Linked DNA regions of Homo sapiens. The protein of the gene in region 3 purifies or fractionates together with the protein of the main gene of each other region. This does not show direct contact. Each region holds a gene or a part of one and is shown on either strand. Other genes may lie near its edges.

Region 1 (4,351 bases), on a different chromosome or scaffold from region 3:
CAACATGGTGAAACCCTATCTCTACTAAAAATACAAAAATTAGTCGGGCGGGGTGGCGGGCGCCTGTAATCCCACCTACTCAGGAGGCTAAGGCATGAGAACCGCTTGAACCTGGGAGGCAGAGATTGCAGTAAGCCAAGATCACACCACTGCACTCCAGCCTGGGCAATAGAGTGAGACTCAGTCTCAAAAAAAAAAAAACCAAAGAACAACAGAAAGCCATTTTTGCAGATGCAGGAACAGGCTTAGAGAGGTTATATAACTTGCCCAAGACCACATCGCATTTAAGTGGCAGAGCCAGGATTGCAACCCAGGTATGTATGATTCCAAATCAAGTGCTCCTTTAATTATGTCCGGCTGCTTAAGACTTTATATTGACATTACGCTGAGATTTAGGTATTTGAATAGAGTTTTAAAATTGTAATATCAGTGTTTAATTGCATTTATTGCTAAGAATGAATATCATTCAGAGAAAATTGAATTTCTGATACAAAGGAATTGGTTTAATGTAACGTCTGCCCCTTGTTTAGATTCATGTAATGAACATAATTATGTTACCCAATGAAACAACTGAATTAGATAGCTTATTTTTACTATAGGAAAGAAAAATCTAGCTGTTTTCCATACGTGCAAAATCACAATGTTAAAAAAGCATTTTTATTTTGGCATAAAAAACCTATTAAACATTTTGTCCTTAAAAGTAGTTATTATCATTTTCATTGTAGAAGATTCCAAAGGATAGTATTGTCTGATAGTGGCTTTAATATACCTTGATTTGAGAGTACAGTATTTTGATGGTGAGACTTCTAATAGAGCAATAGATGTATTCAAAACTGAGGTGTACTCATTGACTACTTGGGAAATTCACTAATTAGGAATTCCTAAAAAAAAAAATTCAGTAATACAGCTTTTTATTTTTATTTTTTAAAAAACAAATATGGCATTGTAGTCCACATATTACAATGCGGCTTGCTTTTTTTGCCTTGAATGTTATACACATCTTTCCAGGTCAGTACATATAGATGTGACTTACTCATTCTATTAATAATAGCTGTATAATATTCCAAAGTATGCATGTATCATAAATTATTAAGCCATTATTCTAGTAACGGACATTCAGTTTGTCCCCCATCTGTCGTGTGTGTGCGTGTGTATATATACATATATATATAATTTTTTTGAGTGTTTCTTTTCTTTCTTGGTATTATAAACAATTATAGGAAACATCCTTATGTGTCCGTTTAACTCATGTTGATGTCATTTTGTGCTAGGATGAATTCTGTATGTGAGATTGCTGGGACAAAGAATATACATATTTTATAATTTAACAGATTTAAAAATCTACTTTTCAACATTTTTTTGTTTTTCAAAAGATGTAGTAATCTACACTGCCAGCACACATTCATTAGCACTAGAAGATAATCAGCTTTTAATTTTTGCCAGTGTGAAGCTGTGAAATGATATATTCAATTAATTTACCTTCTAATTTCTAGGTAGGTTGAACATCTTTACATGTTTATTGCCCTTTTATTTGTTACTTTTTTCTATTTTTCTATTGGGTGGTTTACTTTTTTTTTTAAATATTAGAATTAGTAATCCTTTATCTATCCTATGTCTTTTTTAAATTTTTTTTATTTTTATTTATTTATTTATTTATTTATTTTTTTGAGATGAGCCTTGCTGTCACCCAGGCTGGAGTGCAGTGGCACGATTTCGGCTCACTCCTGCCTCAGCCTCCCAAGTAGCGGGGATTGCAGGTACGTGCCACCACGCCCAGGTAATTTTTGTATTTTTAGTAGAGACAGGGTTTCACCATGTTGGCCAGGCTGGTCTTGAACTCCTGACCTCAAGTGATCTGCCCCCCTCTGCCTTCCAAAATGCTGGGATTACAGGCATGAGCCACTGCACCCGGCCTCTTATTTGTTTTTGTCCAAGTTTGCCATTTGTTTCTTGACTTTATGGTGTGTTTTGCTCATATAGAAGTTTTAAAATACACACAGTTAAATCTATCAATTTAGGGAAGTCGTTTTCATATTTTGCTTAGGAAGACTTACCCAGAGCCAGGATTGTGTACATTTTCTGTATTTTATTATAGTATTTTATAGTTTATTACATTTGGCTCTTTAAACCATTTGTATGTTTACAGAGATTTATCATGATTTTCTCAGTAAATCATTTTTTCCAACTGTATGTTAACATTCCTTCTTTTAATCACATACTAAGTTTTCATATGTTCTTGGATCAATTTTGGATGCTATTTTCCATTAATCAGAGATTCTTTAAACCTCGGGGACCCATAAATAGGCTTCAAGGTATCAGTGAATTCCCTGAAATTATATACATAACTTTCATCAGATTTGCAAAGGAGTATGTGATTCCTTTAATGGCAAGGATCACAGATTTATAGTAGATGTTTCATATTTAGTGGACTTTTTTTTGTTTTTAGTAACATAACGTGCAGATTGTGAGTTAAATTTAGGAGATAAGCTTATTACCTGTGAAAAAGAGAAGTTTTTCAACTTCAAATGAAGTTAATACTTCATTGTATTAAAATGTAGACTTAATTTTCTAGTGAGAAATGGAAAAGGACAGGGAATCCAAATGAAAACTATTTAACTGTGACTCGTTACTATAAAATGTCAGAATTTGTGGCTGGTAAAAAGTAGTTCTTCCCGAATTTCAAGAGCGCACTTGTTGCTAATATTGACTGGTCGAACAGTGCAGTGAAATATTTTCTCACATAAGTGATAGAACTATGTGCTTGGTAACTTTATTTTCTATAGGGTTTTAGCATTGTAAATAATATTTGTTGACTGTATTCTTACATCTCTATATGGATTTATGAGCACATTAGGAATAATCTTTTACATGGGGAAAATAATTGAGAATGGATTATGTAATCATCCATTGGTGAGAATTAATGTTAGTCATTATGTTCTTAAAACTCTACTAGACTAAACAACTAATTCCAGGGCCAAGGTTGAGACTGCTTTTTGGAATTTGGTAGTTTTTACAAGTAAGTTCCTGAAACCATGCAGCAATACCTGTAAGATGTTCCAGAGAATGCTAGATTTCCTCACTTCTGAAATCATTTGGAAAACCTCATAGTAGCTACTGTTTTGAGGACTTTGGGTTAATAGGAATACAGTTATTCTAGAATTGGTAATTGGTGCCTCACTTAGTCTTGAATAGGATGTCTAGTGCCATGGAGTAGTCACCTGAAATAGTTGATCTCAATTAAGATAATTCCAGGATGTCTGTCCACCACTCTGGTAGGCCTTCTAATAGCTTTTTGGCACTTAGAGAAATTGAAATAATAATGAATGTTCAAAGATTGCTCTCCAGAAGACCATTTTTGAAGGATGTACTTATAGATGAACTTCATAATCATGGTTCACTATAGCCTAGTTATTTTTAAGATCTACCCACCTACCAGTACCTGTACTTACGTATTCTGCCTTTCTGCCTGTTAACAATAGATGGTAACTGTCAGTGCTCCTGTTCGGTCATTTGTGCACCTGATTCTGTTGCCTCACTTACCTAAAGACATGGTTCCCGAAGCTTTCCCTCATTCTCCTGTCACAATGTATTCTTGAAAATTGCTAAGAGAGTGGATTTTAAGTGTTTTCACCATACCAAAAAAAAAAGTATGTGAGGTAATGCATGTTGTCTTAATTAGCTTGATTTAGCCATCCATGATATATACATGTTTTAAAACATGTTGTACATGATAAATATATACAGTTTTGTCAATTACAAATAAAAAAAAACTATCTTGGTAAATGTTCCAGGTGAACGTGAAAAATATGTATTCTGTTGTTATTGGCTGAAGTATGCTGTAGATGTCGGTTGGTAGTATTGTTATGGTGTTTTGTATTCTTGATTTTTTTCTGCCTCTTCATCAGTTATGGAGAGGGGTTTTGAAATCTTTGATAATTGTGGATTTGTCTGTTTTTCTTGTAGTTATGTCACTTTTTGCTTCATGTATTTTGAAGTGCTGTGATTAAGTATATGCACATTTAGGCTGTCATGTCTTCTTGATGGACCAACCCTTTTTTTTATACAAGATACCATCTTTATCCTTGGTAATATTCTTTGCTCTGAAACCTACTGCTGTGGTGTTAATGTCTCCCCCAAAATTCACATGTTGGAAACTTAATCTCCGATGCAACAGTATTGGGGCGGGAGGTGGAGGGTGTTTAGGTGATGAGGGCTCTCCCCTCATAACTGTATTAATACTGTTATAAAAGAGCTTGTGGCAGTGTGTTCTCTTTTTTCTACGTAAGAAGACAGCATTTGTCCCCCTTTTGCCATTTCTACCCCCAACCATGTGAGGATGCCACAAGAAGTC
Region 2 (5,013 bases), on a different chromosome or scaffold from region 3:
TCTTTTATGGATTATCTCCTTTGAATACATTGTAAGACATGGGAATCTAGGTCCAGAACAAGAAAAAATTTCGTTACTGAACACCTTGGGAATGTGTTGCTAAATTGCTTTCCAACAAAAGCGTGATTACAATTTACCTTCCATCTGCTATCTGTTAAGTGATTTCTATACGTTTTCACCAGCATTTGACATTATCATTTGAAGTGCTGTCACACACATTTTGAAGATACATTCAAATTTATTCTTGAGGAGGGGAGGGGTAACGAAAAATACTATAAATTTGGTTGTAACTTTTTTTCTGTCTCTTGCATTCAGGCGGTCACCAGAGGAAATTAGTCAGTGCCTTTAGGCTACACTTAGCTTAACACATTTCATTAAAGAGCCCAGTAGTAGAGAATTCAAGATGGGTGTTATTATTTTAATTTCATGAAATCACTCCTTAATTCTAACTTTCAAAAGTCAAATTTTATTTCTTTAATTGCATGTGGATTGTTATAATGAGGAGAATCAGAACAGCTTATAGGACAATATTTCTTTTCTATTTTTCTTAACACACCATATTTATTTGGAAATTTACCTCCTACATTGTCCAGGGAATTAGGATGGGCGTTGGCCGTTTTTCAGCACTTCCTGGTTGAGGCCAAGGGCTCCACTCACGTGCCTGTCCATCCCTCTACAAGGCTTCCCTGGCAGCTTGTTTTTCCGTTTAAAATTTAACAATGACCAAATCCCAAAAAAGCTACCAGGCTAAGAAATGAAACATCTTTTTTTCTTTTAAGTCCGGAGAAGTGCTGCTGAGCACAGCTGGCTCACTGCTGTTTCTGCGGCCCCCATCTCTGATCCTTTCTAGTCTCCTACCCACCCCCACCCCACCATAGGCAGGCAGAGCCGGATTTCTGCCCTTCAAACCCCGAGTGTGAGGAAGCCTCACCTGAAGTCCTCGCATCACCCTCCACCCTCACGCCCTTGGGTTTTAAAAAGCCACTGCGTTCGTGGGTCACTGCAGGGCGCCTCCGCAATGTCTTTAGCAGATACAAGAGCATCCCTCCCACGGGATGTGCAGTGTAGTCAAGCTGAGTAAACTGGGATTTTTGGCTGCCTTTTCTGCTAGGGTGGGTGGGGAAAGGTATGTCCCCCAAGCGTTCAGTTCAGACTAGAACCTTTGAATCTCTCTCCTGTCTCGGTCTCTCCCTCCACCCCCCTACCCCGCCACCTTTCACGGTGTGGGAGTTCTCCTTTCCCACACCAGAGAGGGGCGCCTTTCTAGCTTCCTTGTCCCCTCGCCCACTGATTAAAAAATGGAGAAAAAAACCAACCCCAAAACCCAAAACAAAACAAAACAAAAGCCCCAAACAAACAAACAAACCAAACCCACCGAAACCAAAACCAACTCCCCTCCCCCAAACCACACAAATGCGGGAGTCATAGCCAGTGGATCCGCTGGTGCTGAACGAATGGAAGCGCGGGGCGGGCCTGCGCGCGCGGCCGCCCTGCCCACGATGCTGTCGCCCCCGCGACCTGTAGGGCCTTCGCTGGCCCCTCACCCTCCTCCCGCCCCGGGCTGAGGCTGCCGCCGGTTTCGCGCCCAGTGCCGAGGCAGCGGCGGAGCCGGGGAAGGTCGGAGGGAGGGTGGTTTCCTCCCGCCCCACACCCAGTCTCCGAGCCGGATATATAGAGTGTCACGTTTGGGAGCCGAAAGACTGGAGCCGTTTCCTTGTGGCTGGAGCGCTTCCCGTAGCCTCGGGGAAGGAGCAGGATTTAGAGGACCACTAGTTGGACCCCATCCTCGTGCTGGAGGAACAGGTATTCCAGGGTCCCCAGCCCTGGCGCTCGCAGAGCCCACGCGCTCCAAAAGCAGAGACCGGACTGGGGGTGGCCCAGGAGGGAGGGCTCGGCTGGGTTCGCAGGGCGGGGCGGTTCCCGGCGGGACCTCGAGGAGGGTGGGTGTGAGGCCGGGTGGGAGGAGAGAAGCATTTGCGGAGGCTCTGCCCCCTGAAGCTGCCCCCGGCTGCACCCCAATCGTCACCGGCCGTTTACGCGCGGTTGGCGTCGGCGGAGCCCGCCAAGGTGGGGCGCGCGGGGGTTGCAAAGGGCAGAAAGCCGGGAAGGACCCAGCAAGGTTAATGTGGGGGGCCGCGCCTTGGGGACTGGGGACCCGGGAAGAGAGGCGCGGGGCCGAGTCCCACCCAGGCCTCCTGGGCCCTTGGGGCTATTCCTGGAGAGAGCGCGAAAATGCCGGGGCCACGTGTGAAACGGCAGCGGTCCTAGGTCCCCTCCCGGTGCCTGGGACCGCCAGGGCGCCCAGTCCTGGTCCCCGGAGCAGGTCCTCGCCAGCCCCCAGCCCCACCCCAGGCTGCGCACGTCCCTACCCTCCCACCTGGGCCTCGCCGGGGTCGTGGCTGACGCGCGCTGGGGCGACTGGTGAGGCCAGGGCGGGCTTTGCCCCTGTAGGAAGTTTTAGACATCTTCCTGCGGCCTGGGCATCCTGGGGGTGTGCAGGGGAGCAGGTGCCAGCAGACTCCCAACTGGAGTAGATGGCTTGCAGGAAGGCTGCTCAACACTCCTAGCAAGTAGAATTACCCGCGGGGCAGTCTCAGTCTATTAAAACAATTCATGCCCAATCGTATCCTACAAACCAGAGGAAGGCGTCTCACCTGCCAGCGGTGGCACCATTTCTTCCACGGTTGAGTTATGTGGTGTGAGCAACCAAGGTTATCGCTGGATCTGCAAGAGTTTGGCCACTCGTTGAATCACGTAAAGTGCCCCCATTATGTGATGAGCAAGGACAGAGTAGGGTCAGAAAAGTGACCAGGGAATTCAGGTAGATCGTGCTTTTCTGTTTGCTAGGTTGAGAGAAATTTGACACTGGGCAAATGGAAATTTGAGAATTACCCCGTGGTTTCAATTACCCATCTCTGTATATTCCCATTTATAAGAGCTGGAGATTTGACTGACAGGTGTAGTTAGTCCAAAATTTAGAAAGGGGGGCAAGGGACTAAATAAAAACTTAAGGCAGCCACCTAAACTGCAAGAGCAGGCATTTCCGCAGAAGGGATATTTGTGTGTGAGACTTCTAGGAGATGGGCATGAGGTTTTTACCAGGCCGACGCGTGTGTCAATATTTCATCGGTAGTATTTCTCAGGATCCACGTCTTTACAGTACTCTTTTCCTAATTCTGAGGGCTGCTTCTGCCCCTGCTGTATTAACAAATTCCTCACTTACTCCTATTTCTAACATTGGGCTATAATTATCTATAAAAGAGATGTAAATCACCATGAGTTGGTAAATCATACAGCTATTAGAGAAATTAAAGTAAATGAAAATATGCTTTCCTTAAAGGAAGCTAAAATGTGACATCCAGTTACAGAGGAAGAGGGAGAGGTTGAAAATAAATAAAATGGCTTATATTAGGGTATCACTTTGGGGTTTATAAAGCATATGATCATCTTGACCATCTCACCATCTGCTTTCCTATCTCCTGAGGAAGAAGCATTCTTGAGTGCATTTGTTTCTGGCAACGTCTCATCAGTGTTAAGAATTCCTTGATTTTGCATTAATTCCCATGCACTCATGAAAACTTACTTATTCACAAATATAGCCTTGTGAAGGATCATGCACAGTGACCACCAGCATGCTTGTCCCTACCAATATATTCTGACATTGTAGGCTCTGTTGGAACATGTATTACCTTTGAAGAGGGTAACAGACCAATTTGAGAATCTGATGAAAGCTATGGAATATGAAAGACAAATGCATACATATTAACACAAAATTCCACCTACAATTTCAGGAGTTCATGGCCTCCTTGATGCCCAGCCTCCTACATTCTAGATGTCCAGAGGCTCCAGGCAGGGCCAGCTTCATGGAAATACAAAACTGCAACCGCACAGGGCCTTGCACTTGGAAGGGCCCTGCGTTTGGTAATGTTCTGCTATCACCGTCTGCTGGCTTAATAATTTTCAAAGAGGCTCTGGATCTTCATTTTGAACTGGGTCCTACAAATTATATCCTGACCCCAGGCTGACAAACTTGGTCTAAAACTAACCAAATAACAGTGTTTGAACAGCAATCCCACATTTACGGTGAGTTCTCCAGTACAAACCTGAAATTTATCTGCTGCTCACTTAGGTGCTCTTGGACATGTCATTCAGTCTTCCTACATTTCAGTTTCCTCATTGACAAAATAAAGACAACAGATGACACCTTCTACTTTCTTTATTTTCAAGGTTGTACTATCTCTAAGTAAAAAGAGGTAATAATTGTAAAAAATGTCTACTTGCTTTGAATAGTTCTTTTCTAAAAAATATGCTGTTGTTGAAGGGTTAAACTTTGCCCTCCATTTTTCAGAAGTAGCTTGAGGAAGGTTGATTGAGCACACTGAAAAGACTGTAGAACCTTTCTGACCCTTATAGTTTGGTGGAAAATAAAACAAAAAGTAGGCAAGTATTCAGTGTGTTAAATACTCCTGAAATATCATTATTTGGACAAAATTAGAATTTTCAACTAAAGGTGCAGAATAACTTCTTGGATCCCAAAGGTAGTTATTGAATTAAATTAATGTTTGGGTCTAATTCATCCAAACGTCGAACGGTGAGAAAATGAGCCAATGACTGAAATTTTTTGAGGGGGTAATCCTTTTTGTTTCATTTAATTTAAAAAATCTGTAAGTTCAAAAGTTTGATCAAGTCATCCTTTAAAATATCCTAGGAAATGCCAAATCAATTTAAAGTACACCTAGTCTCTTGCCAAATACACCTAGTGACCTTTTGTAACTCTGGTGCCTCTTAAAGAGGAACTGAGAAAACAGGCAAGTCCTCTGTCCCCAGACTCCTCCCTTAACTACTCTCTGACCTCAAAACTTATCTTTATTCCAGCTGTCCTTGTTAGCATGATGGCAATACACTCAGAACCACTGAGGAATAAAATAGTGTGAAAGGGAATTGATCAAACTCCTTTATTAAGGTCTTCTAATGGCACTAGAAGGGATGAATGGAGATTCGTTCTTCATGCAA
Region 3 (4,351 bases):
TAAGAGGGCAGGTGGAAACTTCTGGTCCAGCAACCAAGGCAGCATCCTGGTATCCAGAAGCATCCAGTGTTTGGGGAATGTTCATCCCAGTGTTCAATGTTTGCCAGTTGTCTGCTGTTCTTACCTCTGAGAGTTTAGCTTCCAGATAACTGGATGCTTGCAATTCTTGCAGCTCGTGTAGTACATGTTTGAGCATCCAGATGTTTCTTTCATCCAGATGTTTCACTTTTTGTGTCCAAATGTCTAGCACTCCTTCAAATGAGGCAAAAGTCTATTGGCCAGCAAATAAATGTGCACATAATGACACCTCTGTTGTCAGACTAACAATGCATGTGGCCATCTCACACAGTTGGCTTATCAGAGGCTGAAGTGCAGAGTGGAAAGCTGATCTGGGGAGGAAGAGCGCAGTGTTGCAGCAAGGACACATGAGTGGGGCCTTGGTTTCTAATTCAGGCTCTTCCACTCATTTACTGTATGACCTGGTTACTAAACCTCTCTGTTCTCACGTTTATGAACTTTAAAACACAATCAGCAGCTGTTATAAGGTGAAAATTAGGCTAGGATATAAAAATATTTTGTAAACTATAAAAGTCAGTGGTTGTTATTTAGCATATTGAAAGAGGGAACCAAAAGTCATGCTGACTAAAGACCTACTATGTGCCGGGAATGTTGTTATTATATTTAGTAGCTGTTATTTCATGGTTATATCATACTTTATTCAATTTTACTTAACTAAATCCTTATACTGGACATTTGGTTCATTACCAATTGTTTTCTGTGATAATCTGTGCTGAAAGGTGGGCCCAAATCTAATCAGAGTCCTCAAAATCAACCCCCCTTTTCCAGCCAGGGTCAGAGGGAGATATGACTATGAAAGAAGGGTCAGGGAGATGCAAACTTGTTCACTTTGAAGATGGAAGAATGTGGGTAGTCGATGCATGTGGGTTGCCAGTGAATGTGGGGGTGACCTCTGGAAGCTGGGAAAGGCGAGGAAATGAATTCTCCCCTACAGCCTTCAAAAAGAACATTGGCCTCCCACCCAACACCTTGATTCTGGACCAATGAGACCTATATCTGACTTCTGACCTGCTAAACTGTAACATAATAATAAATTTGTATGTTTTAAATACGAATAATAATAAAATGGCCTCTGAGCTTCCTAGAAAACAGAGCAAACAGGGAAACATGTCATTTAATCTGTTGTTTTTGGAAAGGAGAAAGCATATTGACTCTTCGGCTCCGAAAAAGGATTTGGGGAAAATGATAAGGAAAAAAACATGGTGGACTTTAACTTTAGAGCTTGGTAAAGGAAAAGAAAAGATCCTGGGTTTCTACAAAGAGATCCCAGCAAGGAGAATCCAGTACTGGGGAATATTACTCACCTGATGCTCAGACTAGGCCACCAGCCAGTGAGGTTTTCCCCACCAACCCTTAGCCAAAGGCAAGCAGTAGAGGTGTCAATCACACCCATGACACTAATACTGACATCTCAGTTACTAATGTGGAATTATGAACAAAGCAATGAAGAAACACAAAACAACCCTTGTTCCCATACAGCAGTGTGGTTGTGCTGAGAAGAGCTCCAGGCTCTGGATCAGACTGACCTCTGTTCAAAGCCCACTTCCATCACTACTAGCCTTGGTGTCCTGGGAAGGCAGGATGCTTAAGCCTCAAAATTATCATGGGTAAAACAGACACAGTACTTCTGACTTCAAAGGGTGCCTGTATGGGTTAAAGAAGATGATGTATAGCCAGGCTTACAAGGTGCTTACCACCACCTCCCTAGTCTCAATCCTCAAGGTGAGCCCACCTGTCACCCACGGGAGCTGGCTGGACCTACACAGAAACATGGGAGAAGTTAGCCATACAGATCCTACTGTCTCCTGCTCAACGAGGTGAACAGCCTGCCCAAGCTTACATAGCAGATCAGAAGCCAGCCTTCCAGCTCTGGGGTGCACTGTGATCCAAGGCTCCCTTCGAACTGCCCACTGGCAGGCCGCTGCCCCTTCAACTGCCAGGAGGCACCCCTTTCCCTAAGCCCAAAGCAGAGGAGGTGTTGCTGACATGAATGTTCCTGCCTGAGTAACTCTGTCTGGTGTTTCTTCTTTGCAGGGGATGCCCCTTTTTGTACCCCTGAGCAGCACAAGGAGTGTGCAGAGCCTGCCCTAGGTCAGTACTCAGGGGACAGATGGAATCATGGGGGCCGGGGGCCTGAGACTGAGATCATGGAAATCATCTGGGTTTGGGGAAAGATCAAGTGGAAGAAGGAATGGAGAGAGGATGAGAAGAAAGGGGCTGGTCGGGTGGAGTTGCTGCAGGGATGGGAGAGGGAGATGGAGAGGAGGAAGAAGAGAAGGTTGGGAAGGGAACTGGTGCAAGAGGATGAGGGCTGGAAATGGGACTGGGGAGAGAAAGAGATATGGAAGGTGGAGATGGAGAAGGAGTGGGTTTCAGGGGAAACAGAGGGTGCTAAGGAATGCAGGGGAGAGGACAGAGGTGGAGAGAGGATAGACAGTGGGCAGCCAGGTAGGCATCAGAGGAGCTTGGCAATACCTCCCCTCACACACTCTGATGGTGTCTACATGGGGAGGCCAAGGTGATTCTGAAGTACCATCTTTCTTCTGCTCCATTGAGCCTAGGGGAGGTGGAGGAGGGCTGGAGAGGTAAAGTCAGGTTTGCATTCCATGCATGCAAATGGAAAACACAAAGCACACTTCTTCCTCCTGCCTGAGGGGCCTGCGGGGGGTCTGCCAGTTAGAAGACCTCTGCTGGTTCCCCAGCTGGAAAACTAGGAGGGAGGGAGAGTGCACAAACAAGCTGCAGCCCCAAAGCTAGGCCCACTCTGCATGCTTGCCTCTCTCTGGACCCAGGAAATGGCTTATAATCAAGACAAGCAGACTTTTTAAACAATGTGCCCTCAAGTTCGTTCAGCATCTGCACTTGCTGGAGCTAAGTGAGGCAGTGCTGGCCTCAGGTCCAGATACCTCCAGGAGGACTAGAGAGGGAGGGCAGGCTGAGAGGAGAGGGAGTGACTTCTGATGTGTGCAAAGACTCAGCAAAACCCAGGGTAGCTGGAAACACTGAGGTGGCTAGAGGAAAAAGGGAGGGAGGTGTTAAAGAAAAAATCACTCTGACACTAGTTAAAATGGTAAGGAAGTCTTTATTCAGGGCAATTGCAACAGGTGTCAAGAGTATCACAACAGGGGAAACAGATGGGACTCAACTGAGAATTCAGCCAAGACAGCTGGAGATTCATAGCCATCAAGCAGAGCGAGGACTCAGTAGATGGAAAATTACCCAGAGAAAACATCAAAGTTAGGGGGAAATCTGCAAAGGCAGGCCAGGGTGATCAGATATCAAGGGTGGGGGATTCTCTCTAAACTGACTTTAGCAGGATTCTTGCTAAAACTGGGCTAGGCCCGCCCAGCATGGATGGGGGCCAAGGTCAAGGCCTAGTTGAGAACAGGGTTCTGAAGAGCCTGGCTAAGTTTGATCAGGGAGAAAGTCTTTGTCAGAGGGAAATGATGCCTTAAACTTTATGTCTAATTGGAAGAAGAGAGGAGAGGGCAGGAAGGGTTCCAGATGCAGGGAGTTGCCTCCAGGGAAAGAAATGAAGGAACTTTGCCTGCATCCTAACCCACCAGGCAGAGAAGGTGGGGCACTGGCTATGAGGGAGCCCCAGCAGGAAGAGCACAGAGCCCTGGGTTTCAGATAAAATGGTCTCCTACATTTGCTTTGATGGTGGATCATTCTCTGTGGATGAGAATACTGAGGCTGGGAGCAGGGAAGAAAGCCATGAGAAGCTGAGGACACCAGGACTCTCTTGGAGACCTCTGCAAAAGTGGTCCCATTTCAACAATTTTTAAAGAGTGACATGACAGTTAAAAGAAGCAGAAGGAAAACAAGATCAACCTACAGCAAAAGCCCAGTTCCCCTCTCTCCACAATCCCTGCCCCTCACTTTCCCCAGACCAGTGCCCCTTCCCAGCTCATTTCTCAGCTGCTACAATCCAGCTACTCTGGACCCTTAGAAATCCCAGTGCCCACACCTGACTAAGCCCCACCTCACTCTCCCCTCCAGGTCTGTTGGCGGAAAAGGACAGCAATTACTGTCTCTGCAGGACACCCTGCAACCTAACCCGCTACAACAAAGAGCTCTCCATGGTGAAGATCCCCAGCAAGACATCAGCCAAGTACCTTGAGAAGAAATTTAACAAATCAGAAAAATATATCTCGTAAGTTTAGTGGGCATGGTAGGCAGGGGGAAGGGGGAACTGGATAAGGAGGAAATTGGAGGCAATCAAGGAGGAAAGCAAAGATAAGCATTTGGTTCAAGTTAGCAAACATTAGTT
Region 4 (4,351 bases), on a different chromosome or scaffold from region 3:
GTGATCTGCCTGGCTTAGCCTCCAAAAGTGCTGGGATTACAGGCATTAGCCACCACACCTGGCCCCTAGAATAGTTTTTACGTCAATTTATTAACTCTATTTGTCAAATGCTTGGGATCACAGGAATGAAAGGCATTATGCAAAACAGATATCTATACATAGAAAAATGGTGTTTGCAATATAAATTATCGTTATTTTATCATAAGAGCCACATTTAAGCCAAATACACGTAAATGAAAACCGAGAAATCCAGTTTCTGTGCAAAAAAAAAAAAAAAGAGAGCACTGCAAACAAATGTTCATCTGCCCCCAACTTCTTAATCCTTAGCACAAAACCAATTTAAAGAAGTAATTTATTTTTCTTTTTTGATGTAACACTTTTTAAATGGAAATAACATCTTACCTGGGCCCCAAACTACTTACAAAATGGTTTCCAGGTATTTTGCATATGTTTACATGAATCATCTCACTAAGATCCTGAGAGTGATGTGAATTCTGGCCTCACTGTCTGTGCAGCCCAGGGCTCCATGCACTGGAATTACTTCCCCATCATGGGAGTGTGTGCCAGAGCCCTTCTTTTCTGGCAGCCCTTGTAAGTTTAAAAGAAAAACGGGAGCTGAATGGGTTTGATAAGGACATTGAGATAATGGAGTAAATTAGAATTCGGAGATAAGATGAAAGCTATTATGTAATTATTGAAAGTATAATTAAGTAAACAGTATTGTTTTCTAACTTACTTTAAATGTCACTAAATGTATCCATTTAATAATTTAGCTAATTAGGGTCTTCAGTTATTTTGTGTAACAGATAAATACAGGAAGAGAAAAGAAGGTGCTTGTGGTGATACCCTTTGGTTAGTGATTCCTCTGTAGAAATAGCAAAAGACATATGTGATTGCCAAGAAGGAAATTATCCAGGGCCAGTCAATATCAACTGGACCAATGAGTCACAAGTGACCAGGAGACACCTTATATTGTGTTTAGAGAGAAAGCAATAATTCCATGAGACTTCCTTTGAGTACTGGTATAAAAACCAAGCTTCACTTGTTCCTTTGTTAAGGATTCTGTATACAGTAAGATTAGCTGTTCATACCATTCATTTATACACATAATGGATTGTGAAATGTTAATCCTTAGCTATATGCAGGTGACCAGTATGTCCTGGGTTTTTTAAATCAGTAGTGCATAATCAGAACTGGCTACATCCTTAGCAGGGCTCAGAGCAAAATAAAAATGCAGTGCCCTGTTTTTAAAATTATTAAGGATTTTAGGATGATGACAGAAGAGAATAAAACCCTGGGCATGGGACCCTGTGCGGCTGCACAGATTGCATACCCACGGAGCCAGCCCTGCATTTGATAGCTGTCAGATGTAAAGGCAGACTTCTATTTATATATGCAGCTTTCAGTCAATTGCATGAATGTGTAAATTGTCAAAGAGAAATGTGATGGCCAGGTCCTTACTGTGAGTAAAGGACCAGGAACAGGACCAAAGTTTGAAAGGACTAAAGAAAGCCCCTTCTAACATTACAGCTCTATGTCTCTTGGTTATCTTCAGCCCATTTTCCCTTCAGTTCCTAAAGAAAACCATAGGATAGAATTATATCCTATAATTATAGGCCATATAGGTAACAGGAGGATATGACTTATGTGATATATATTCTTCTTGTAAAAATAATGTCAGGTATTTATCGGGGACTGCAGGGTGGGCCTTCTTCCTCTCCTAGATGAAGAACTGAGGTTCAGACAGCTAATTATGGAAGATAATTAGCTGGGATAATTATGGAAGATAATGCAGCTGGGATCCAAGTTCTTCATCACTCTAGTCCACTGCCTGTCTCATAGGATTCCAGTTGATCCTGCAAGACAAGAGTAGCTTACAAAGGGTTTGCATATACCTTAATCTCATATCTCATTCCCAGTAGCACCCTTGTGAAATTGGCAGTGTTATCCCCAATTTACACACAGGGAAACAGAACTTCAGAGAAGTTATGTCATGTTGCAAGGTCTTAAGATAGCAAATGGCAGAGCTAAAACTAAAGTCTGCTTTTCAAGTCATGAGTCCAGCCATGTTTTCTCTGCTCCCTACTTTGGGGACCCAGCTACTTCCCCTACATATGCCATTCCTTTTCAATCTAACTCTATTGGTTTAATTCTTTTCCACTAGACTTTGTTTAACAGATGTTGCATTTCCCAGAGGAAAAGTGAATCTCCTCTACACTCTAAATAGCTAAAAGTATTATTGATGAAAGGACTTCAATTCCCTATAGAATTTTAGTTCTAGAAGCATATCTGAATAATGTAGGGGTTTTCTTAAGTGCAGTGAGAGGTAATTGAGGAAGTGGAGGAGGAAGCTGCCAAGAGTCAGAGTTCTCTCAAAGATGACTCCAACTTCTACAATTGACCTTGCTAGAAACAAGAAAATGAGACTTAGATATTGGGCCAGGACAGCTCAGGAATTATATCTTCCATTGGGAAAGGCTTCCTGTACCTATGTTACTATGAAATGTTACAGCTTAGTTTCATGCATATGGCTGGTGTGATCCAGTTACTTATTTTAAAAAGAGAGTTGATTTCCTTTGTTTATATGCTGGCAGTGAAAAACAGAATGACAGTTCGACTTAAGAATGAGGGCTTGTTCTCAGTACAGAAACAGAAGTAGCCTAGTTCAAGAAGTGCGGACCACCGCTTTGTACAATGGTCTCCAAACTTTGGTCACTTCATCAGGAAATAGTATGAGCACTTCTCTCCATACATAGTTATTTGTAAAGTATACATGCTTCTGCTATTGTACTCTAAAACGTGCTGTATTATATACCAAAAAAGTCCAAAAAATGAGAAAAAATAAATAGAAATAGGAGTTCTAATATTCTTTTTGCTTCCCCAGTGAATGTCTTGCTCACTTCACTTTAAAAAAACACTGCTTTCTGTGTTTTTGTTTTTGTTTTTGTTTTTGTTTTTGTTTTTCGGGTTTTTTGAGACAGAGTCTTTCTCTGTCGCTGAGGCTGGAGTACAGCAGTGCAATCTCGGCTCGCTGCAATCTCTGCCTACTCTGTTCAAGTGATTTTCCTGCCTCAGCCTCCTGAGTAGCTGGGATTACAAGTGTGCACCACCACGCCCAGCTAATTTTTGTATTTTTAGTAGAGATGGGGTTTCGCCATGTTGGCCAGGCTGGTCTCACTCTCCTGACCTCAAGTGATCCACCTGCCTCAGCCTCTCAAACTGCTGGTATTACAGGAATGAGCCACCACACCCAGCCAGAAAACACTGCTTTCTAAAGAATATGCATCTAGCCAGAACTTTGTGTTTTAACATTTTCGATTAAAAATTGAAATTATATATCTGACATTAACTTAATGATCATCATTTACTTTCATACAGCCCTTATCAATTCCAAAAAGCTATTTTCTTTCATCTAAGTCACAATCACTTGGGAATTTATTAAAATGCAAATTGATGGGCCCCACCAGAGAGCTACATAACAAGAAATTCCTGTGGGAGGAGCCCAGGCAGCCTTTATTTTAACTAGCCTATGTTTTTAACCAGATGATTCTGATGTACACTTAAGTTTTAGAACCCCCATCTATGGCCTGGTGCCATGGCATGCGCCTGTAGTCCTGGCTACTCGGGAGGCTGAGGTGGGAAGATAGCTTAAGCCAGGAGTTTGAGACCAACCTGGGCAACATAGTTAGACCCCACCCAGGTGATTAGGTCAATTGAATCTGACTTTTGTCAACAAATTCTTCTAATATGTTTTTTAAATGCACAAAATGTCAAAGTTGAGATTTAATGATGCTTTTTACAATTTCAGGATTTACTTCAGATGCAATATGAAGGAGTAGCTGTAATGAAAATGTTTGATAAGGTTAAAGTGAATGTAAACCTTCTCATATACCTGCTGAACAAGAAGTTCTATGGAAAGTGAAGTGCCTACAGAAATTTCTTGGATTCTGTATCATCTGGATTAGGAAATGAATTTGTTTAATATTTTTGTTTTTAAACATGATTGAAATCACTGCTTATAAATGTGTGATTTTTTTAAAACGACCAAAACTGTTCTGAAGAATGTACCCAGGTGCCTTTTTGCTAATTTGATACTATAATAGAATGAGACATAAAATGAATTAATGGAAACATATCCACACTGTACTGTGATATAGGTACTCTGATTTAAAACTTTGGACATCCTGTGATCTGTTTTAAAGTTGGGGGGTGGGAAATTTAGCTGACTAGGGACAAACATGTAAACCTATTTTCCTATGAAAAAAATTTTAAATGTCCCACTTGAATAACGTAATTCTTCATAGTTTTTTTAATCTATGGATAAATGGAAACCTAATTATTTGTAATGAAT
Region 5 (4,351 bases), on a different chromosome or scaffold from region 3:
GTTTAGGCTAAAATTACTTTTAGTTAAGAACATAAAGAGATAAAGAACTGCTGTTTCTTAGAGACAATTTCAAAAGCTCTAATGGTATAATAAAACACTGTGAATCATAGCTACTATTATCTTTCCCTCATAAAGCTTCCCTAGTCATTGGGTAAAAAGAAAGGTCAAGCCATGAATACTTCACTGATCCTTCCTAACTGCTTCTCTTGACTAGTGTGTCTCATCCTATTTTATATCCAAGATCCTAGGGAAAAGATCATCAGCAGCAACAGCAGAAACAAACAGTGGCTATCATCTATTTGTGTGTCTCAGTTAGAATTTAGGGACTTTTTTCAAGGTCCCTTAGCATCCAGTCAAAAAATCTCTTCCTAATACCTCTGCCTGCCTAAACCTAGCAAGCAGCTGGTGGTATGAGGAACAATCTTAAGAGTAAATGTAAATATGCAGACTAGAAGAGCAGTAGGAATAATCATAATAACATAGTAACAAAAAGAATTTTATTCTATTGAACACTTGGTATGGGCCAAATATTTTATAAGAAGGCAACTTTAGGCAGAGGCAAACTTTTAGTCTAAGCCCCCAAGCTCAAAACCATTTCATTTTTTCCTCACACTTACGGTTTTTTATGCCCTTACACTGAAATAAAGGCAAAGGAAGGGTCAAGAATTAATGAATTAAGTTTATGCAAAGGACAGCTTCAAATCAAACCTTCATTATAAACTAGTCAAACCTGCTATTTTGTTCCTGGATTTTTATGGCCTGTTTAAGTGCCATCCAAAGAAAAACTCATAAAGTTGACATCCCTTTTCAGACTAGTATGAACCCACTTATTATACTACCATACTGTTATGAGATTCAAGTAAAAAAAAATGTAGACATTCCACAAAAGGGATAACAACTGTTTTTTTAATCAATGTATTCTCAAAGATTAAGTATGTTTCCTGGAATTAAATGTGTGTCACCTAAAATTAAAACAAACAACGCCCCCCCATTCTGCTAAATGCAATGTGGTATGCTGGATCAGATCCTGGAAAAGAAAAAGGACACTTGCAGAGAACTAGTGATTTGGTGAAAACAAATTTTGTTGAAATTCAAATAGTCTGTAGTTTAGTTAAAAATAAGGTACCAATGTTAGGCCTGCACGGTGGCTCACGCCTATAATCCCAGCACTTTGGGAGGCTGAGGAGGGTGGATCACGAGGTCAGGAGATCAAGATCATCCTGGCTAACACGGTGAAACCCCATCTCTACTAAAAATACAAAAAATTAGCCGGGCGTGGTGGCGGGCGCCTGTAGTCCCAGCTACTTGGGAGGCCGAGGCAAGAGAATGGTGTGAACCCGGGAGGCGGAGCTTGCAGTGAGCGGAGATTGTGCCACTGCACTCCAGCCTGGCTGACAGAAGGAGACTCCGTCTCAAAAAAAAAATTATTGTACCAATGTTAATTTCCTAGTTTTAACAAATGTAACATGATTATGTAAGATGCCAAAATTAGTGGAAGCAAAATTCTGTACTATCTTTGCAACTTTCCTGTAAATCTGGTACTATTTCAATATGAAAAATTGCAAAAAAAAAAACAAAAAAAAAACACTTCAGGAAAGAACCCAGCCCACAATAAACGCTACTGTGAAAGCTAAGAAATGGTATCTATAATTATTAATAGTGCTAAAATATTTAATTGGAACAAAAAACACATTAACATACCATATTTATTTTCAAAGAAGGATTGTGCAGAGACATGGGATGTATGCCAATGGGAAGAAATGTTTTTGCCTTTACAAAATCCAGGAAGTAGATTTTCTACCAGCTGATCAATCTGTCCAATTTTTAGTTCAGATAATCCAAGGTCCCTTAAGTTAAGTGAAGGCTGTAAAAGATTGGGTCAACCAGGTATGCATTAATATTATCAAGATATTTAACCTAAGGAGTACATATTATCAGTTAAAACAATCAGATTTTAAAAGTCTAACAAATATATTTCCTTTTTTTAATATTTAAAAATAAATTGATGCAAATATTTTCACAGTTCGTTTTACTGAGATCAGTCATATGAGGTTTGACATAGGTTAAAAAATTATATTCCTAATGGTATCCTTAAATAAAGAGATGACATTTCAGCATGAATGAGAAAAACTTTTTTTTTTTTTAAATCAAACCCAAACCACTACTGTCCTAAGCATTATGGTTCACAGAATCAAGTGAAATGTATGGCATTTTTTCCTTCTCTCCATACAAGGGTACTCTGATCAAGAGCTAGTCTATCAACTATTGATCAAGCATTTATAATGACAAGAGTGTAAGAGTAACTAACTGCAGGGTTACAAAGTATGTTATATAAGGTCCAGGGGATTTTCCCCAACAGTGTAGAACTGATTGGAGGATAATAGTAAGGTTCTTGAATTGGGGAAATTCCATTCAAATGATAATCCTCACCAGTCCATGGAGCTTTTAAGCCCCTAAGCAGCCATAAACAAAAGCCCACTTGACAAAGAAATGGTATGCTTGGTTACCATAGGACATCTCACTCCTCTGGCCTCATTGCTTAGATCCTTCCTTGAACTCAGAGGTTCTAAAGTTACCCATATCTTCTAATAAAGAAGAAAATTAAAGTCAAAACTGTGTGAAAATCAGGCAAAAAAGTCTAAAAATCACAAAAATGTGTGTATACCCACTTTTAAACAACAGGATAGGGATTATTTTCTTGTCCACATGAGCTGAAAGAGAGGCACTTAAAGGCAAGTAACAATTACATGTTACTCAAACCCAAAACAGCTAAGGTGGGAAGATCGTTTGAGGCCAGGAGTTTGAGACCAGCCTGAGCAACATGGTAAGACATCATCTTGATGAAAAATTTAAAAATTAGCTGGGCATGGTGGTATGCACCCGCAGCACCAGCTACTCAGGAGAAATGTTTGAGCCCAGGAGCTGGAGGTTGCAGTGAGCTATGACAGCATCACTGCACTTCAGCCTGGGCTACAAAGGGGAGACCCTGTCTCTAAAAATAAAGTTTTTTTTAAAAGAGGCATGGACACGGATTATATAGCTCTGGACTGATGTCTGGGAATACGGTACTTTTTAAATTAGCTATAACTCATATTCTTAGAATTCATTTTCTCAATACTAACATAACTATAAAATACACCTTATTTCCTAATAGTAAGGATCAAAGGCAGAGATCATGCCTTACTCATCTACGTATCCTAGCATACAACATGACAGCACATAGTAAAAGACAGTTAAAGGCATGATGAAATAAAATACTTAAAAGTACTTTTTAAGCTATTAAAAATGATCAAGGCGGCTTAGGGACGGGGGCAAACAAAAAGCCATCCAAGGGTCTGGAATATCTCAAAAAATTCAAGGAAAGAAAAAATTAAAGAGATAGGTTATGGCCAAACTGTGAAGAGCCATGTTTGAATTTAATTCTCTAAGTAACATGATTAGTTCTGTCTTATAGAAGAAAATGGAGAACTAAGGAAGATAGACTGGCCTAGCATGGTGGCTCGAGCCTGTAATCCCAACACTTTTGAGAGGCTGAGGTGGGAGGACTGCTTCAGGCCAGGAGTTCGAGATCAGCCTGGTGAAGAAAGCAAGACCCTGTCTTTACAAAAAATTTAAAAATGATAAAACAAACAAACAAAGAAACTAGACTGGATGAGAGAGAAGGCTGATGGAACAAGTGAAAGATGGCAAGAACCTGAACTAAGCCGTGACTAAGAACGATGGACAAAACAAATCATAGACAATAGGCATTTGGAGAAACCCGCAGTGTACAGGGATTGAGAGGGAGAAGGGTTCTGGACGGATGTGCCAGTTATCGGTTGTGTCCAAGCTCTTCTTCATCCTTTTTGCTGGCTCCATGAACATGGATCTGTACCCTTCGAATATTTTTCCTTTGCCAATTGAAACAATGTTAAGCTTCGTCAGGAAGTCACTGAACATACACTGTAGGAAGAGAGGTTTTGATTCCTGGTTGTGGTATGCTCATTTAGCAAGTTCCTGTCTGTAACACCCGTGGTTTCTATAGCATCTGGCTCCTGTCAATTGTGCAGTTTCACCAAACCCTGGCTCCTGGCGTGCACAATGGCCAGCAGGACCTAGCAGCTTCCCCTGGCACCACTCGTGTAACAGCTTCTCTAGTAGGACACATCCCCAGGAACAGCTTTTCCCAGTATCCTAGAGGGCAGACTTCCCAGATTTCTAGCACGTTACCCTGGCATGACATCACAGCAACTTTTCTACCATTCAGTGAGCCAAGGCCATGCCTTCGCCAACAATGTCAGGATCTCAGCCCTGGGGATGGAGAACTCTTCCTGACTCTATCTCAGCCCTAGAAGTATGAGCTGCTCCCTAA

The links.
Region 1: the proteins of ASIC2 (region 3) and HS2ST1 purify together in Homo sapiens (affinity purification with mass spectrometry; one large-scale study listed by BioGRID and IntAct). This does not show direct contact.
Region 2: the proteins of ASIC2 (region 3) and FAR2 purify together in Homo sapiens (affinity purification with mass spectrometry; one large-scale study listed by BioGRID and IntAct). This does not show direct contact.
Region 4: the proteins of ASIC2 (region 3) and IQGAP2 purify together in Homo sapiens (affinity purification with mass spectrometry; one large-scale study listed by BioGRID and IntAct). This does not show direct contact.
Region 5: the proteins of ASIC2 (region 3) and YME1L1 purify together in Homo sapiens (affinity purification with mass spectrometry; one large-scale study listed by BioGRID and IntAct). This does not show direct contact.

What each region holds. Positions count from the first base shown.
Region 1 is NC_000001.11:86,917,331-86,921,681, forward strand, and holds part of HS2ST1 (heparan sulfate 2-O-sulfotransferase 1), read left to right. Parts: intron 1-4,351. UniProt on the Homo sapiens protein: Catalyzes the transfer of a sulfo group from 3'-phospho-5'-adenylyl sulfate (PAPS) to the 2-OH position of iduronic acid (IdoA) or glucuronic acid (GlcA) within the heparan sulfate (HS) chain and participates in HS biosynthesis.
Region 2 is NC_000012.12:29,147,605-29,152,617, forward strand, and holds the start of FAR2 (fatty acyl-CoA reductase 2), read left to right. Parts: upstream 1-1,673; 5' UTR 1,674-1,803; intron 1,804-5,013. UniProt on the Homo sapiens protein: Catalyzes the reduction of saturated but not unsaturated C16 or C18 fatty acyl-CoA to fatty alcohols (FAls). A lower activity can be observed with shorter fatty acyl-CoA substrates.
Region 3 is NC_000017.11:33,023,744-33,028,094, reverse strand, and holds part of ASIC2 (acid-sensing ion channel 2), read left to right. Parts: intron 1-2,112; coding exon 2,113-2,169; intron 2,170-4,080; coding exon 4,081-4,234; intron 4,235-4,351. UniProt on the Homo sapiens protein: Forms pH-gated trimeric sodium channels that act as postsynaptic excitatory sensors in the nervous system. Upon extracellular acidification, these channels generate rapid, transient inward currents that fully desensitize.
Region 4 is NC_000005.10:76,703,392-76,707,742, forward strand, and holds part of IQGAP2 (ras GTPase-activating-like protein IQGAP2), read left to right. Parts: intron 1-3,808; coding exon 3,809-3,922; 3' UTR 3,923-4,351. UniProt on the Homo sapiens protein: Binds to activated CDC42 and RAC1 but does not seem to stimulate their GTPase activity. Associates with calmodulin.
Region 5 is NC_000010.11:27,143,727-27,148,077, forward strand, and holds part of YME1L1 (ATP-dependent zinc metalloprotease YME1L1), read right to left. Parts: intron 3,943-4,351; coding exon of another isoform or gene 3,772-3,942; intron 1,865-3,771; coding exon 1,702-1,864; intron 1-1,701. UniProt on the Homo sapiens protein: ATP-dependent metalloprotease that catalyzes the degradation of folded and unfolded proteins with a suitable degron sequence in the mitochondrial intermembrane region.